2 separate regions of the Homo sapiens genome follow, and region 2 is linked to region 1. The links come from fine-mapping of genetic effects on gene expression. Tissue or cell type: esophagus mucosa. Region 1 holds a variant in brackets; the other region holds the start of a gene. All regions are shown on one strand. Distances are between the middles of the regions.

Evidence for each region. PIP is the estimated chance that this variant, and not a neighbour inherited with it, causes the effect.
Region 2: it holds the start of MN1, and the variant in region 1 is fine-mapped to the expression of MN1 in esophagus mucosa (GTEx, PIP 0.97).

The regions. Positions count from the first base shown.
Region 1 is chr22:27,832,249-27,840,250 of GRCh38, reverse strand. No RefSeq gene overlaps it. Among named protein-coding and RNA genes, the nearest start is that of MN1, 34 kb to the right of the region's middle. The variant A/G (reference allele first, on the strand shown) is at 4,736.
Region 2 is chr22:27,796,766-27,804,765 of GRCh38, reverse strand. It overlaps MN1 (MN1 proto-oncogene, transcriptional regulator), which reads left to right and starts at 3,010. Exons shown (of 2, transcript NM_002430.3): 1 at 3,010-8,000. The coding sequence starts at 4,223. RefSeq lists enhancers at 1-36, 37-601, 4,944-5,489, 5,490-6,036.

The DNA of each region.
Region 1 (8,002 bases):
TCACATCCCTCCTCTGCTCAGAGCTGTCCCATGCAACTCATAGTGAAGTGCAGATTCCTTCCTGTGGCCCTTACAAGTGTCATCCTTTCCCCATCTTCCAGTCCTTCTCCCCACTCCAGCCACACCGGCTGTCCAACACACCAAGCAGGTCCCCTTAGCCTTTGCACTGGCTGTTCCCGCTGCTAACACTCTTCCACCAGATCTCCTCCTCGCAGCTCCCTCCCTTACCTCACATAGGTACCCAAATGCTCCTCTGCAGGGGGCCTCCCTGGACCACTGTTTAGGCCCTGTTCCCATTTCTCATAGCTCTTAATTCTTCACGGCACTTATCTCTACGGGCAGTGTGTGTGTGTGTGCGCGCGTGCGTGTGTGTGTTGCTTGTCTCCCCACTGGACTAGAAGTTCCATGAGAGCCTGGTTTGCACTGTCCTCAGTGGCTGGAACCAGGCTTGGTCCATCCTAGGTGCTCAGTCAGCTTTTGCAAATGAGAAACTCCACCGTCTCTCTTGTGTTAAAATAGGCCAGCAACTCTCAGTGAACCACACAGTAGTTGCAAAGATCACATAAAGCTGAACAGGGCTGTCCAAATGTAATGATGGCCATTAGCGTCTCTCCACCTCAGAGCAGCGATTCTGGAGCATTCTGTGTAATTGGAGCACAATTAAGCATATGGCAGTGTTTCCACTGGGCCGGAGATCTGATTCCGAGCTTTCGCAACACGGTTTCTTTCTTGTTCCCAGTAACATCAAATCCGGATCCACCGTCAGGCGGGCTCTGTGGTCTGGATCACAGGAGAATACTGGGGAAAGAGAATCCTGCTAAAAGGATTTAATCTCAAGACATTGGGCCACATATTCAGGGATGATTTCTTGGATTTTGCAAGCAATGTAAATAACAGCAAGAGGATTCCCGCTGTGTGACGTGAGGTGCATCCTGCCGGGCTGGGACAGGAAGCTGCCCAGGCTGGGCTGCTATGGATGCACCAGGCAGGGGCCCCCGATGCAACTGATGCAACTGGCAGAGCTGCACCCCACTCCTCCCTGTCTCACCCATGCCATACCACCCACTGGCCTCACTCACTCTTCCAGGAGTGCCAGACACTGTGCAAAGCATTCTCTGGGTGGCAAGGGTTTAAAGGCCAATAACAGAGATGAGGATTAAGATGCCAGTTATCACCCAATTCAGTCATGGAGTGAGATTTCTTTCACTTATGTACAAATCATGGCTCCCTGGCTGAACTGTGAGCTTCCTGGGGGTGAAGTCTGCATTTGAAGCAGCCAGCCTGTGGCAACTTGGAAGTCATCTGTGGCATCTCATTTTTATAGATGAGACCATGAAAGGAGGAAGTGAAGCGTCTAGTGGGTCAGGTTTGGAAACAACTTAGATGTTCATCTGTGGGGAAATGGATAGATATAATAACGGATACTGGGTGGGCACAGGGGCTCACGTCTGTAATCCCAGCACTTTGGGAGGCGAAGGCAGGAGGATCGCTTGAGGCCAGGAGTTTGAGACCAGCCTCGGCAACAGAGTGAGACCCCCGTCTTTATAAAAACTAAAAAACAAGATTCTCCAGGTGTGGTAGTGCATCTGTAGTCCCCCCTACTTGGGAGGCTGAAGTGGGAGGATCACTTGAGCCCAGGAGTTCGAGGTTATAGTGAGCTATGATCATGCCACTATACTCCAGCCTGGGCAGCAAAGCAAGAACCTGTCTCTTAAACTTTTTTTTTTTTAAAGGGATATTTGTAAAATGGATTATTATACAGCAATGAAAAGGAGTGAGTTATCACCACACTTACCAGCAAGGATGAATCTTAAAAATTAATATTGACCAAGAAAAGAAAGTTGCAAAGGAGCCACAGTTGGTAATATCATATATGTTCATTTTAAAAACCATTTACCCACGGCAGTTCTTGGATATATACATGTGTGTATATAAAAGGGTGGCAGATAGCCTGGAAGAACAAAACTATGTTGAATACAGGATGGCCCATGTCTGTGGCTATGGGGAGGGGAGTTGACTGGGTTTGAGGGGCTGTCTAGACCAATGATGATATTGAGCCTCTCACAAACAAGTGTCCTTGAGGGAATCAATTCATTCCTGTGTCCCTGCCAATTAAAATAAGTGAGTAAGTTTCCCAGTGTCTCCCAGTCTGCAATGAACACAGCCTGAGCCAGGGGCCCATGACTCCCAATCTGCCTCCCCAATGGGTCTTCAAAAAACACCTGTCCAATTCATGAGACTTCTGCATTCATAAAATCAACATACTAGGAAAGCTTTCTTAGCCAACAAAAAATTCTCTTTTGAATCCTGAATACAAAAGTCTACCCCTGAGTGCATTCTCCCATCTGCCTGGAGATCCTGTGTGTTCTTTGGTTTATGTGAAACATCACTGTGTCTGCTTGTTTTTGCTGTTATGTCTTCTTGTTCTTGCTAAGGGAGGCTGATTCAGCCTTAGCACATCCCCTCCTTCTTAAGAGGCCCCCTTTGTTCTTCCATGATCAAACTTCTTTGGTTTTTTTTTATTTCCTTCTCTCCATCCAATCCCACTTAACTTGAACATCATCTCTGTGCCATGACCTCTGCTGGGTGGGATCCAGATGGCAGTGCAAGATAGTTCTTCCCCTCAAGGGACTTAAAATTCAGTACTCCCCTCCCCCAGGCCTAGCAACAGGGTAAGGCAGGGTCAGCGTGAAGAAACAGGGATCTCCAAAGGGAGGTCTATTCAGAGAAGTAACTTTCTTTCTGTCTTCTCTTTCTTCTCTTTCTCTCTTTCTTTTCCTTCCTTCCTTCCTTCCTTCCTTCCTTCCTTCCTTCCTCTCTTTCTCTTTCCTTCCCTCCATCCTTCCTTCCTTTCTTTCTCTTTCTTTCTTTCTTTCTTTCTTTCTTTCTTTCTTTCTTTCTTTCTTTCTCTTTCTTTCTCTCTTTTTTCTTTCATTCCTTCTTTCTTCTTTCTCTCTTTTTCTTTCTTTCTTTCCTTCTTTCTTCTGTCTCTTTCTCTCTCTCCTTCTTTCTTTTTTTTTTGAGACAGGGTCTCACTCTGTCACGCAGGATGAGTGCAGCAGTGCAGTCACGGCTCACTGCGGCCTCAACCTCATGGGCTCAAGCAATCCTCCCACTTCAGCCTCCCAAGTGCCTGGGACCACAGGCATATGCAACCATGCCGGCTACTTTTTAAATTTTTTAAAAATTAATTTAAAATTTAAAATTAATTTATTGGCCGGGCGCAGTGGCTCACGCCTATAATCCCAGCACTTTGGGAGGCCGAGGCGTGTGGATCACGAGGTCAGGAGATAGAGACCATCCTGACCAACATGGTGAAACTCCGTTTTTACTAAAAATATAAAAATTAGCCGGGCGTGGTGGCGCGTGCCTGTAATCCCAGCTACTCAGGAGGCTGAGGCAGGAGAATTGCTCAAACCAGGGAGTCAGAAGTTGCAGTGAGCCAAGATCGCACCACAGCATTCCAGCCTGGCGACAGAGCGAGACTCCGTCTCAAAAAATATATATATATATAATAATAAATAATGTATTATTATTTTTTTAAAGACACAGGGCCTCACTATGTTGCCCAGGCTGGTCTCAAACTCCCAGATTCAAGCAATCTCTCGCCTTGGCCTCCCAAAGTGCATGCCTGGCCCAGGAGCTTTCATAAAGACCATCAACAACCAGGCCTGTGCGCAGAGGAGGGTGGGCCGAAGCGGGAGGGAAGTGGAAACTGAGTTGATGAGCAATGGTGGAAGGGCCTGGAAAGCAACATTCCGTTTCAGAGAGAGGGGAGCGCTCTGCCTGTCTGCAGCCCTCAAGGATCCAGTCATGCGGGTTTGGGGGAAGGAGGGCCCCAGCTGGAGTCCACACGGGTTGAGACAATTAGGGGGATAATTTGGGCTGAGTCATCTTGGTGGAGGCCGGGACGAGGGTGTTGGGTGGGTGTGGGCCCCATCAGCATAATTGCTCCAGACTTCTGGTTCTCTTTGGCACAGCACTGAAATAAGTTAATCCACCGCTTGAAAAGTGTTGATTCTCCTCCTGTAACTTAGCATGAACAGCAAAGTCTGCCTGAACCTGACACCAGGGTGACCTAGTGAGGGTCCTGTCCCGGGGGCGGGAAGCAGGGATCAAAGGGGGAAAACAGGCCAGTGCTATTCCTGCCCCAAGCCTCAATAACGCCTTAATCTGGAAAATGGGAACAAGACCATATCCCATCAATTCTAAGAAGTGCTTTTCTTCCCTCATTTTAACATCTCTAAAATTGTGATGTGGTTTACAACTGGCAGTGTCTTAGATTTGGTGAACTATGATGATAAGAAGAGAAAAATAGAAGAATAGCTACCAATCGCTACCAAGCACAGAATGCTTACTCTGTGTCAGGCACTGTGTCTGTGAACTTTACAATGTAACCCTCTCATCAACCCTAGGAGACAGGGTTTCATTTTATGGATGGCAAAGCCAGGGTTCCAAGGGGGATTCACATGCTCATACTGGTCACAATCAGTATGTAGGGAATGCAAAATATGCTGAAGCGTTTGCTTTCGTTTTTGTCTTTTTGAGACAGGGTCTGCCTCTGTCATCCAGGCTGGAGTGTAGTGGTGTGATCACAGCTCACTGTTGCCTCAACCCCATGGGATCAAGTGATTTTCCCACCTCAGCCTCCCGAGTAGCTGGGACCACAGGCACGTACCACCATGCTCGGCTAGTTTTGTTTATTGTTTGTAGTCTCATTGTGTTGCCAAGGCTG[A/G]TCTCAAATTCCTGGGCTCAAGTGATCCTCCCACCTCAGCCTCCAAAGTGTTGATATTACAGGCGTGAGCCACCACACATGGCCCCGTGAGGTGGTGTTGATGCTTATACATGTACATGTAGTTTGAAAAGATTGCATATTTAAGTATTCAGTGTGGTGCCTCACGCATAGTAGGCGTTTGATTGTTCTGCCCTTCCAGGCTGCCTCTTTTCAGATGGTAGCACTGCCAGGCATAGGATGGAGGCTGTAGAAATGTTTGCTGCCTGGCAGACTGGAAGGACGGATGAACTTCCCCTAATCAATGCCCCATTCACATGTCTCGGCTCCCTGCAGGTCATCTGCGGAGAGATAGCCCCTGTGCTCTTGGCCGGGTGACTGGACAGGCTGGCTAGAAGGGCTGGAGAGTTAACACCCCCAGCCCCACCTCAGGAGCAGCCCTCAGCCAGAGAGGGATGGGCACTGGTGGGTAAATACCCCAGCTCCCTCGCCCCTCTGTTGGGGCAGCTGCAGCATAGTGTGCACAGTTTCCCAGAGGTCCCCAGCAGGACTGCGCCCGCTTCCCACAGTGGTCAGCCACTCCCTAATGCATCCTTCGCTGGTTTCCTCCTCTCTCACTTCCCCACTCCCGACCCTACTCCTGGAATTACCTGGCAGACAAGGGGCTCACCCCGAGATCCTTGCCCGAGGGTCTTCTTTTGGGGGAACCCAGACTGAGGCAGTAGTGAAGTGGGGTTCAACCTGATGGCGCCAGCCAAGGTAGTGGCAGGTGTCAAAGGATTGGCTGATGATAAAGGGGACCTACAGGATGAAGAGGGGGGCCAGGCCCTCAGATGACTCACAGAAAGATGCTCCCAGTCACCGGGAGAGTTCTTAGTTCTGTGGCTGGAGATTGTTAAGCCTGGGGATCTGCCGAGGCGGCAGGTCAGTGGCCAGACGAGGAACCGCAGGTGAATTCATCACTCATGTCTGTGTGCAGAGTGGGGCTGGCTTCTGCCCGAGGCCCCGAGAGACACCTCAAAGTTGCTGCAACTGTGGTCCTGGGGAAACAGCGCTGGCTTGCTTGGAGTCAGACCCACCTGGGTTTAGATTCCAGCCCCGCAGCTTCTGGGCTCTGTGGGTCGCATCTCCTTCTGAGCCTCACTTTTCTTGTCTGTGCAAGAGTCTCCACATCACAGGTTGCTGAAAGGACTCGTTGCAATAAGATGTGTAAGTGCTTCGTACAGAGCCGGGCACATGGTAAACCCTCACCACGGAGGCTGGGTGTGCAGGCTGAGAGTCAGTTGCTGGGTTCAGGAACTTTCAATGTCTCTCTGAGTTTCCATTTTCTTTCACCTGTAAAATGGGAAGTGGGGGCAAATATCCTCACCATGAAAGCACTGTAAAGATTTAGAGGTTATGTACAAGAGGCTCAGAGGCAGTGTGCAGTGGCCATGTGGCGATGTTGGAACCACTGGTATGAGGAGTTAATAAAAATGTATTTTATCCCCAACATTCACTATACTCCTGCCACACTGGCCTATTTTGTTCCCACCACAGGGCCTTTGCATGTGCTGTTTCTGCTGCCTGCAAGCCCTCCAGAACCCTGACGTCCAAATGGCATCTCATAACCTTCCTTCCCATTGTTCCAACTATACAGCTTCATGTGCTTGTTGGAGGTGGCCTCTCCCTTTAGCTTGAGCCCCAAGAAGGCAGGGGCCATGGCTTTTTGGTTTGTGAAAGCTTCCCTACCTCTGCATGCAGATTCTAGCATACAATCAATGCCCAATGAATGTTTGTTGAGTGAATGTCTGAATAGGAGGCTTGTGTCTTCAGGAAACTCCTGAACATATGGCTCAAATGTAAAGAATTTTGGGCTGGGGTGGGTGAGGGAAGAGAGTTGTGTTTGTTTCAGCTGTTTAGTCCAGGCTGGAGGAAAGGGGCATGTTTGTGGGGCCTGATGAGCCTGTGTTCGGAGCCCAGCTGTGGCTCTTGCAAGCTCAGCGATGCTGCCCACCTATGGAGCCTCAGGCTCTTCATCTGTAAAACAGGGAGAATAACATGCACCTTAGCGAGTTGTCAGGGAGAGGAGATAAGTATTAGATTGGTGCAAAAGTATTGTGGTTTGATTGGTGCAAAAGTAATCACAGCTGGGCACAGTGGCTTAGGTCTGTAATCCCGGCACTTTGGGAGGCCGAGGCGGGCAGATCACCTGAGGTCGGGAGTTCGAGACCAGCCTGACCAACATGGAGAAACCCTGTCTCTACTAAAAATACAAAATTAGCCGGGTGTGGTGGTGCACGCCTGTAATCCCAGCTACTCGGGAGGCTGAGGCGGGAGAATCGAATCGCTTGAACCCGGGAGGCGGTTTTGGTGAGCCAAGATCGTGCCATTGCACTCCAGCCTGGGCAACAAGAGTGAGACTCCATCTCAAAAAAAAAAGTAATCGCTGTTTCTGTCATTGACAGTAATGGCAAAAACCGCAATTACTTTTGCACCACCTAATACATGGCTCAGCAAAGCCAGCTGTATCTGCAGATAGGTTATGTCTTCTACTTTTCTTCAAAGAAGGGGCTGTTTACCTGGCCTTGATGCTCTAGAATTCTCCACAGACCCCAGAGCCTGGAGCCCAGGGATGTACTGTGGTCATGAGGCCGTCACCTATTGCAAAGTTATAATTGCCAGGTCAGATTTAATAGCATCCTGGAGAGCAGATCGCCACGCCGGGTGGCTCCACACATCACTCTGTTGGCTCGCCTGGCAGGGTTGCCCTGGTGGGTGCAAGGGGTCTTTGTTCCCGAGATTCATGCAAAGGTCAGGCTGTGGTAGCATGAATGTTTCCAGGCAATTCTTGTCTATCGGGGAGGCATCTCTGGCCATGTCTCCTTCTTGGTCTGTGATAGGGAGAATTGAGACCAAGTCTCCAAGTGGGGACAATGAGGGCACAGGGACGGTCATCGAGAAGAAGACAAGGCTCTCGGGGCAAGGGTTTTGCCTTCAGCTCTCAGAAGGGCTGCAGAACTTGCAGGCCCAGGTAGGGGATGACAAACAGGATCATAAAGGGGCTCAGAGTCAACTGCCAGGTTTGTCCCAGCAGCCACTATGTGCAAATGGCTTCAGTTCTCTGGGCGTCAATTTCCTCCTCTCTAAAATGGGAATAATGGTACATAGAAAATGAGGAGATACAATTGTAAATAAGCTTTTTAAAACAGCCTAAGGTGCAGCCACTCTGACCGCACAGCTATTTCCTCTCCTGCTTATTTCCACCCCCTCCTGTCTGTGCACATTCAG
Region 2 (8,000 bases), 35 kb after region 1:
GTGAGGCACACGCCCTCACACTCGCAGAAAAAACAGATACACTGGAGCAGAGATACAGGCATGCAAGGGGTGAGGCAGCTGCACACACACAGGTACAAACGCAGTGGCTCACACACACAGAAATGCGGGGTTGGGGGACAGACAGAGAACATGCACCAAGACCCCCAAAGATCCATGCACGAACGCCGACGCAGGCATGGACAGAAACACACGCAGATGCCCCGCCACCCGCATACAAGCAAAGGCACAAAATGCAGACGTGTGCCACACACCCGCACAACATTTGCAGTGTTAAAGAAAGGTGACCGAGACACACATCCTGAACAGAAACTTCACCAGGTCCAAACACTCCCTTCTTTCAGCCACTCACACACCTTGTGGAGCTAACTCTTGGAAACAGCCCCAGAAAAATACTCCCACACCCCCCCTCCCTGGAGCACACGGAATTATTCCACAGGAAACCTGCCCAGGTGTGCTGGAGACCCCCACCCAGCCCTGTGTGAAGTCATGCCTCAGCTCTGCAGACGCCCCCATCCGGGTCTCCCCAGACGACAGGCCTGTGAGCCATTCTTCCCACTCTCCTGGCCCACCCCCAGGCTCCAGACAGGTCCCCACTTTTCCCTATTTCCTCCAGACACAGAAACACAGGCGGCTCATAGGTGCCTCAGGAGACACCCATAGTCGAGAGCAGACTGAGTGTGTGACCCAGTATCTTGGACTATGCCCAGGCCTTTGCCCATGTGGGGGCCTCTTCCTCACAACCAGGTTTTCCTATTGCCTCCCGCTTTTTGTCCAGGAGGTTCAAGATCCCCCCTGCTCTGTCTCGGGAGCCCCAGAGCCCCAGGGTCCTAGGCCCCGGGGCGGGCGGGGGGGGGGTGTCACTGGAGGGCCTACCCAAGCCTTTATTTCTTTGTGCCTAAATCAGCAAAGCCTCAGTCTTTTCTCTGGCTCTCACTTCCCTGTCACTTTGCTAAGTAATAATTTCCATGTCCAATTCCATTTCTTTTCTAGTTCTGAAACCTCTAAGCTATCAGCAAGAGGATAGTTCACATGAAAACTAATTACACAAAATCAATATTTAATCACAGACCAACAACCTGATCCTGCAGAAAAATCCTTTAAAAACTCCACCGCCCTGTACAAATACTTATTCCCTATGCTTATTTATGGACCCCATTTTTGATGGGGGTAATTTTCATTTTTAATTTCAAAAAAGAAAAAATATATATGTCTGTAAACTTCCACAACAGGAAGGCCCCGGGAAAGGTCTTGGATCTGAGCTTGCTCTGGCTGAGTTTTAAAGTTGTTGTTTTTTCTTGTTTGTTTATTTTTAATTAAAATTTTTTTTGGGCGGGGGGCAATTTCTTAGGAATTCTGCCGCTACCCCAAAGTTGAGCCCATTTCCCCCCACCCCCGGCATGTCGGTTCTGGCATACTTAGCACTGCCTTCCTAGCCGCAACTCAGGGGAGCAATGAATCTGCGCGTACGACATGGTAACTTTTTAACTCCTGCCCGCGACGGTGGAGTGCTTAATCTAAGGTTTTTAAATAAAAAGGGCTCAGGGGTTGGTTTTATTATAACGTTTATTTCATTTCAGATTTCATGCGTAATTTAGCAAACGCTAGACAGACTCGGGCGATAAACACTTTCTTTTGTGGGGGGGGAAAGGCATTTTCATACACCACGCTTAATTTTATTTAGATTTAATAGCGATATCAGGGGCACTTCAAAGAAAGTTCTTTTTTCGCCCTTCTCCTAAGAATGCGAATCTGCTAGCAAAATCGCCTCGTGCTATTTTATGGCAAGGAAAATTAAAGGCCTTCTCCCCCCTCCTTCCCTACACACACTTTAGGGAGGAACACACACACACACACACACGCATGCACAAACACACGCACGCAGGCGCGAGCACACGCACACAGGCGCACAGAATAAACACCTCTATCCTCCATCACCTCTAACTTCCAACTTCTAATTGCAAGATAGATTTCAGCCTCTGTGGGGATCAGGACGATCTAAACATTTTAACTAAGATTATTGGGATAAATATTTCATAAAGAGCAGGGCAGATATTAAATTACTCCTATTGATTTTAGTATCACAGCCCAATTCCATTCCTCGGCCTCTTCAGTTTAATTGATCTCTTAAGGAGGCCAACTTCGCACCCGCAGAGGGTCTGGGTCTTGGACCGGGTGGCCCAGGGCAAGGTGTGCGGCCCGGCGGGTGCGCCCTCTTCGTGCGTGTCTTCTCGGGGTTCCCAGCCGCCTCGCAAGTCGCTCCGGTTACTGGGCTCAACCGATGTGCTCCCCCATAAAGTGGCTGAGTGACTGTGACTCCTTGGAGCCCACGCCGGCCGGTGAGAACCGGGAACCCCAGGCAGTGGGGAAGGGGAACAATTGTGAACGCCCTAGTGACGGAGGAGTGAGCAAGCGCCCAGGTCTCTCGAGGAGAACCCTAACTTCGAGGTTCCCCGTCTGCTTTACCCTCCAAGAAAATCCCAGGGCCGGCTAACTTGGGCGCCGCTAGCGGAGAACGGAGTGTTCACCCCGGAGCCGAAGTGCAGTAGACACTTAGCGACTTTCCGTGGCGAGTCTAGGGTCTTTGCCTGGCGACCTCATTGTCTGAGCGCCCCGTACCGCTCACCGCCCACCTCCCCGCCCCCTGCCCACCCGGTGGGTCTCGCTCCAGTTGGGGGTGGGGAGTTGGGAACAGTGTGAATGGGAAGGGGGTGAACAAAGCCAAGCTCCCGCCATTCTCCTCCGCCTGCACCCTCTCCAGCTCGATGCGCCCGGAGGCCGGGGCGCGCCCCCAGCGCACTGACGCCGGACCCCGAGGAGAGGCGGGCGCAGGGGACCCCAGAGCTGGGGTAGTGCGGGTTCGTGGCGGGGGCTTCGGCAGCCAGGACCCCGGACCACCTTAAGAGCGAGCCCCGCCCCGAGCCCGGAACTTGGGCGGCGCTGATTGGTGCAAATGTAATGGCTGAAATTGATTGCTGAAATGCAAAACTTGTTGCTGCTTCTCCCGGCGCTGGGCGAGAGGCAGACACAGAGAGGGGAGCCGAGACCCTCGGAACGCCCCACGCAGAGCCCCCCCGCTAGTCGGGAGAGGGGTGCGCAGACCCCCCAGAGCTGCCCCCGCGCCCCCCTCCCCCCATTCCGGGCTCTGAGAGCGCAGCGGGAACGCCTTAGCCTGCTCGCCCGGCGTGGCCCCCCGACCCGCGTACGCCCCCCTCCCTCAGGTCCGAGAGGGACTCGCGAAGCACCTCAGCGCGGAGGCAGGGAACCGGAGCCTTGGAGCGACCCAACCCCTCGTCTCGCTGCCCTCCCGCGCCTGCAACGGTGCGCGGAGACTCCGGCGAACTCAGACACCCAACGGCGGAGAACAGAAGCGGCAGGCGGCGGACGTGGCCGCGAAGCTGCGCGCCGAACGCAGCGCACCCGCTGCCGAGCAGAGGAGCCGCGCCTTTCCCCGACCCTCGGCTCCAGCCCCCGGCGCCTGCCGCCTCGCAGCCCCTCTGCGTCCTCGGCTCGGGGGCCGGCACCGGCGATGCCGAGCGGAGCCTCCAGTCCTCCGACCCGCTGAAGAAGCAGCAGCCGCTCGCCCGGAGCCTACGGGGATTGTGCGAGCGGATCGTGCTCGGTGGAGGCTCGGGCTGCGGGGCGCGGGGACTCCGGGGGGCGGGGGGAGGGACCGCTCTGTCGGTGCCCGGCGCCAGCCGCGGCTTTGAAGGGTCTCCCTCCCCTGCCCTTAGCAGCTCTGCCACGGACTCCGGGAGGCTGCGGGCGGCGTCCTGAGGGCTCCCCAGCAGACCCAATCGGACTTGAGAAGGTGATCGCTCTGCTCTCCCAACCCCCTTCCCTCCCCATTCCCCCCACTTAACTTTTTGTCTCCGTTCATCCGCGGCTTCGTCCCCTCCCCGCAGACCCACCCGCGGCTGTGACAACCGCCCGGGGCATGGGCCCCCCAACACGGCTCCTAGAGGCCCCGCGGCCTCGCAAGATGTGAGAGGCCCTCCCCGGGCAGAATCGGAGCTTCAGGAGAGGAGCTAATACCCCGCCCCCCGTCCCTCACATCAGGCGGGGTGGAGGTGCGCGCTGAGCCCCCGCGGTGCTGAGCGTCCCGGAGCGCCCAATCCTGGGCTGGAACGAGTAGCTGGCCGGAGGCGCGCCGCGGAGAGCCGGCTGTCATGCCCTATTGATCCCCCTCTGCCCCCCGCCAAGTATGTTTGGGCTGGACCAATTCGAGCCCCAGGTCAACAGCAGGAACGCTGGCCAGGGCGAGAGGAACTTTAACGAGACCGGACTGAGCATGAACACCCACTTTAAGGCCCCGGCTTTCCACACTGGGGGGCCCCCTGGCCCTGTGGATCCTGCTATGAGCGCGCTGGGCGAACCCCCGATCTTGGGCATGAACATGGAGCCCTACGGCTTCCACGCGCGCGGCCACTCGGAGTTGCACGCAGGGGGGCTGCAAGCGCAGCCTGTGCACGGCTTCTTTGGCGGCCAGCAGCCTCACCACGGCCACCCGGGAAGTCATCATCCCCACCAGCATCACCCCCACTTTGGGGGCAACTTCGGTGGCCCGGACCCCGGGGCCTCGTGCCTGCACGGGGGTCGCCTGCTCGGCTACGGCGGCGCAGCCGGAGGCCTGGGCAGCCAGCCGCCCTTCGCCGAGGGCTATGAGCACATGGCGGAGAGCCAGGGGCCTGAGAGCTTCGGCCCGCAGCGACCGGGGAACCTCCCGGACTTCCACAGTTCAGGTGCCTCCAGCCACGCCGTGCCGGCCCCATGCCTGCCGCTGGACCAGAGCCCTAACCGAGCCGCCTCCTTCCACGGCCTGCCGTCCTCCAGCGGCTCCGATTCCCACAGTCTGGAGCCACGGAGGGTGACGAACCAAGGAGCCGTCGACTCGCTGGAATACAATTACCCGGGCGAGGCGCCCTCGGGACATTTTGACATGTTTTCGCCCTCTGACTCCGAAGGGCAGCTGCCTCATTATGCAGCGGGTCGCCAGGTTCCTGGGGGCGCTTTCCCGGGCGCCTCGGCCATGCCCAGAGCTGCGGGCATGGTGGGCTTGTCCAAAATGCACGCCCAGCCACCGCAGCAGCAGCCCCAGCAGCAGCAGCAGCCCCAGCAGCAGCAGCAGCAGCATGGTGTGTTCTTTGAGAGGTTCAGTGGGGCCAGAAAGATGCCTGTGGGTCTGGAGCCCTCAGTGGGCTCCAGGCACCCGTTAATGCAGCCTCCCCAGCAGGCCCCGCCACCCCCTCAGCAGCAGCCCCCGCAGCAGCCGCCACAGCAGCAGCCGCCGCCGCCACCCGGGCTTCTAGTCCGACAAAATTCGTGCCCGCCTGCGCTCCCTCGGCCCCAGCAGGGCGAGGCGGGCACGCCCAGCGGCGGCCTGCAGGACGGAGGCCCCATGCTGCCCAGCCAGCACGCGCAATTCGAGTATCCCATCCACCGGCTGGAGAACCGGAGCATGCACCCTTATTCCGAGCCTGTTTTCAGCATGCAGCATCCTCCTCCGCAGCAGGCGCCCAACCAGCGGCTGCAGCATTTCGACGCGCCCCCCTACATGAACGTGGCCAAGAGGCCGCGCTTCGACTTTCCGGGCAGCGCGGGAGTGGACCGCTGCGCTTCGTGGAACGGCAGCATGCACAACGGCGCTCTGGATAATCACCTCTCCCCTTCCGCCTACCCAGGCCTACCCGGCGAGTTCACACCGCCTGTGCCCGACAGCTTCCCTTCGGGGCCGCCCCTGCAGCATCCGGCCCCGGACCACCAGTCCCTGCAACAGCAGCAGCAGCAGCAGCAGCAGCAGCAACAGCAGCAGCAGCAGCAGCAACAGCAACAGCAACAGCAGCAGCAGCAGCAGCGCCAAAACGCGGCCCTCATGATTAAGCAGATGGCGTCGCGGAATCAGCAGCAGCGGCTGCGCCAGCCCAACCTGGCTCAGCTAGGCCACCCCGGGGACGTGGGCCAGGGCGGCCTGGTGCATGGCGGCCCGGTGGGCGGCTTGGCCCAGCCGAACTTTGAGCGCGAAGGCGGCAGCACGGGCGCCGGGCGTCTGGGCACCTTCGAGCAGCAGGCGCCGCACTTGGCGCAAGAGAGCGCGTGGTTCTCAGGTCCGCATCCGCCGCCCGGAGACCTGCTGCCCCGTAGGATGGGCGGCTCGGGTCTGCCCGCTGACTGTGGCCCGCACGACCCCAGCCTGGCGCCCCCTCCTCCGCCTGGTGGCTCGGGGGTGCTGTTCCGGGGCCCTCTGCAGGAGCCGATGAGGATGCCCGGAGAGGGCCACGTGCCCGCGCTGCCTTCACCGGGCCTGCAGTTCGGGGGCAGTCTGGGAGGCCTGGGTCAGCTGCAGTCGCCCGGGGCGGGCGTGGGGCTCCCCAGCGCTGCTTCGGAGCGCCGGCCCCCGCCGCCGGACTTTGCTACGTCTGCGCTCGGGGGCCAGCCGGGCTTTCCGTTTGGTGCAGCCGGCCGGCAGTCCACGCCGCACAGCGGTCCAGGCGTGAACTCGCCCCCCAGCGCGGGAGGGGGCGGTGGCAGCTCTGGTGGCGGCGGTGGCGGGGGTGCCTACCCGCCGCAGCCTGATTTCCAGCCCAGCCAGCGCACCTCGGCCAGTAAATTGGGCGCGCTCTCGCTGGGCTCCTTCAACAAGCCCAGCTCCAAGGACAACCTGTTCGGCCAGAGCTGCCTGGCTGCGCTCTCCACCGCTTGCCAGAACATGATCGCCAGCCTCGGGGCCCCCAACCTCAACGTGACCTTCAACAAGAAGAACCCGCCAGAGGGCAAGAGGAAACTGAGCCAGAACGAGACCGACGGCGCGGCAGTGGCCGGCAACCCGGGCTCGGATTACTTCCCAGGAGGGACTGCTCCTGGGGCCCCAGGACCCGGAGGCCCGTCCGGGACCAGTAGCAGCGGCTCCAAAGCCTCGGGGCCGCCCAACCCTCCAGCCCAGGGGGACGGCACCAGCCTCTCCCCCAACTACACCCTGGAATCCACGTCGGGGAATGACGGCAAGCCGGTCTCCGGGGGCGGCGGCCGGGGACGGGGTCGCAGAAAAAGGGACAGTGGTCACGTGAGCCCTGGCACCTTCTTTGACAAGTACTCGGCGGCTCCGGACAGCGGGGGCGCACCTGGGGTGAGCCCAGGGCAGCAGCAAGCGTCAGGCGCAGCCGTCGGGGGAAGCTCCGCAGGCGAGACGCGCGGGGCACCGACGCCCCACGAAAAGGCGCTCACGTCGCCATCCTGGGGGAAGGGGGCTGAGTTGCTCCTGGGGGATCAGCCGGACCTCATTGGGTCCCTGGACGGCGGGGCCAAGTCGGACAGTAGTTCGCCAAACGTGGGTGAGTTCGCCTCGGACGAGGTGAGCACGAGCTACGCCAATGAGGACGAGGTGTCGTCCAGCTCTGACAACCCCCAGGCACTAGTTAAAGCGAGCAGGAGTCCCCTGGTGACCGGCTCGCCCAAACTCCCTCCCCGTGGGGTAGGCGCCGGGGAACACGGACCGAAGGCGCCCCCGCCCGCCCTCGGCCTGGGCATCATGTCTAACTCTACCTCGACCCCTGACAGCTACGGCGGCGGTGGGGGCCCGGGCCATCCGGGCACTCCGGGCCTGGAGCAGGTCCGCACCCCGACGAGCAGCAGCGGCGCCCCGCCACCCGACGAGATCCACCCCCTGGAGATCCTTCAGGCGCAGATCCAGCTACAGAGGCAGCAGTTCAGCATCTCCGAGGACCAGCCTCTGGGGCTGAAGGGTGGCAAGAAGGGTGAGTGCGCCGTCGGGGCCTCAGGGGCGCAGAATGGCGACAGCGAGCTGGGCAGCTGCTGCTCCGAGGCGGTCAAGAGCGCCATGAGCACCATTGACCTGGACTCGCTGATGGCAGAGCACAGCGCTGCCTGGTACATGCCCGCTGACAAGGCCCTGGTGGACAGCGCGGACGACGACAAGACGTTGGCGCCCTGGGAGAAGGCCAAACCCCAGAACCCCAACAGCAAAG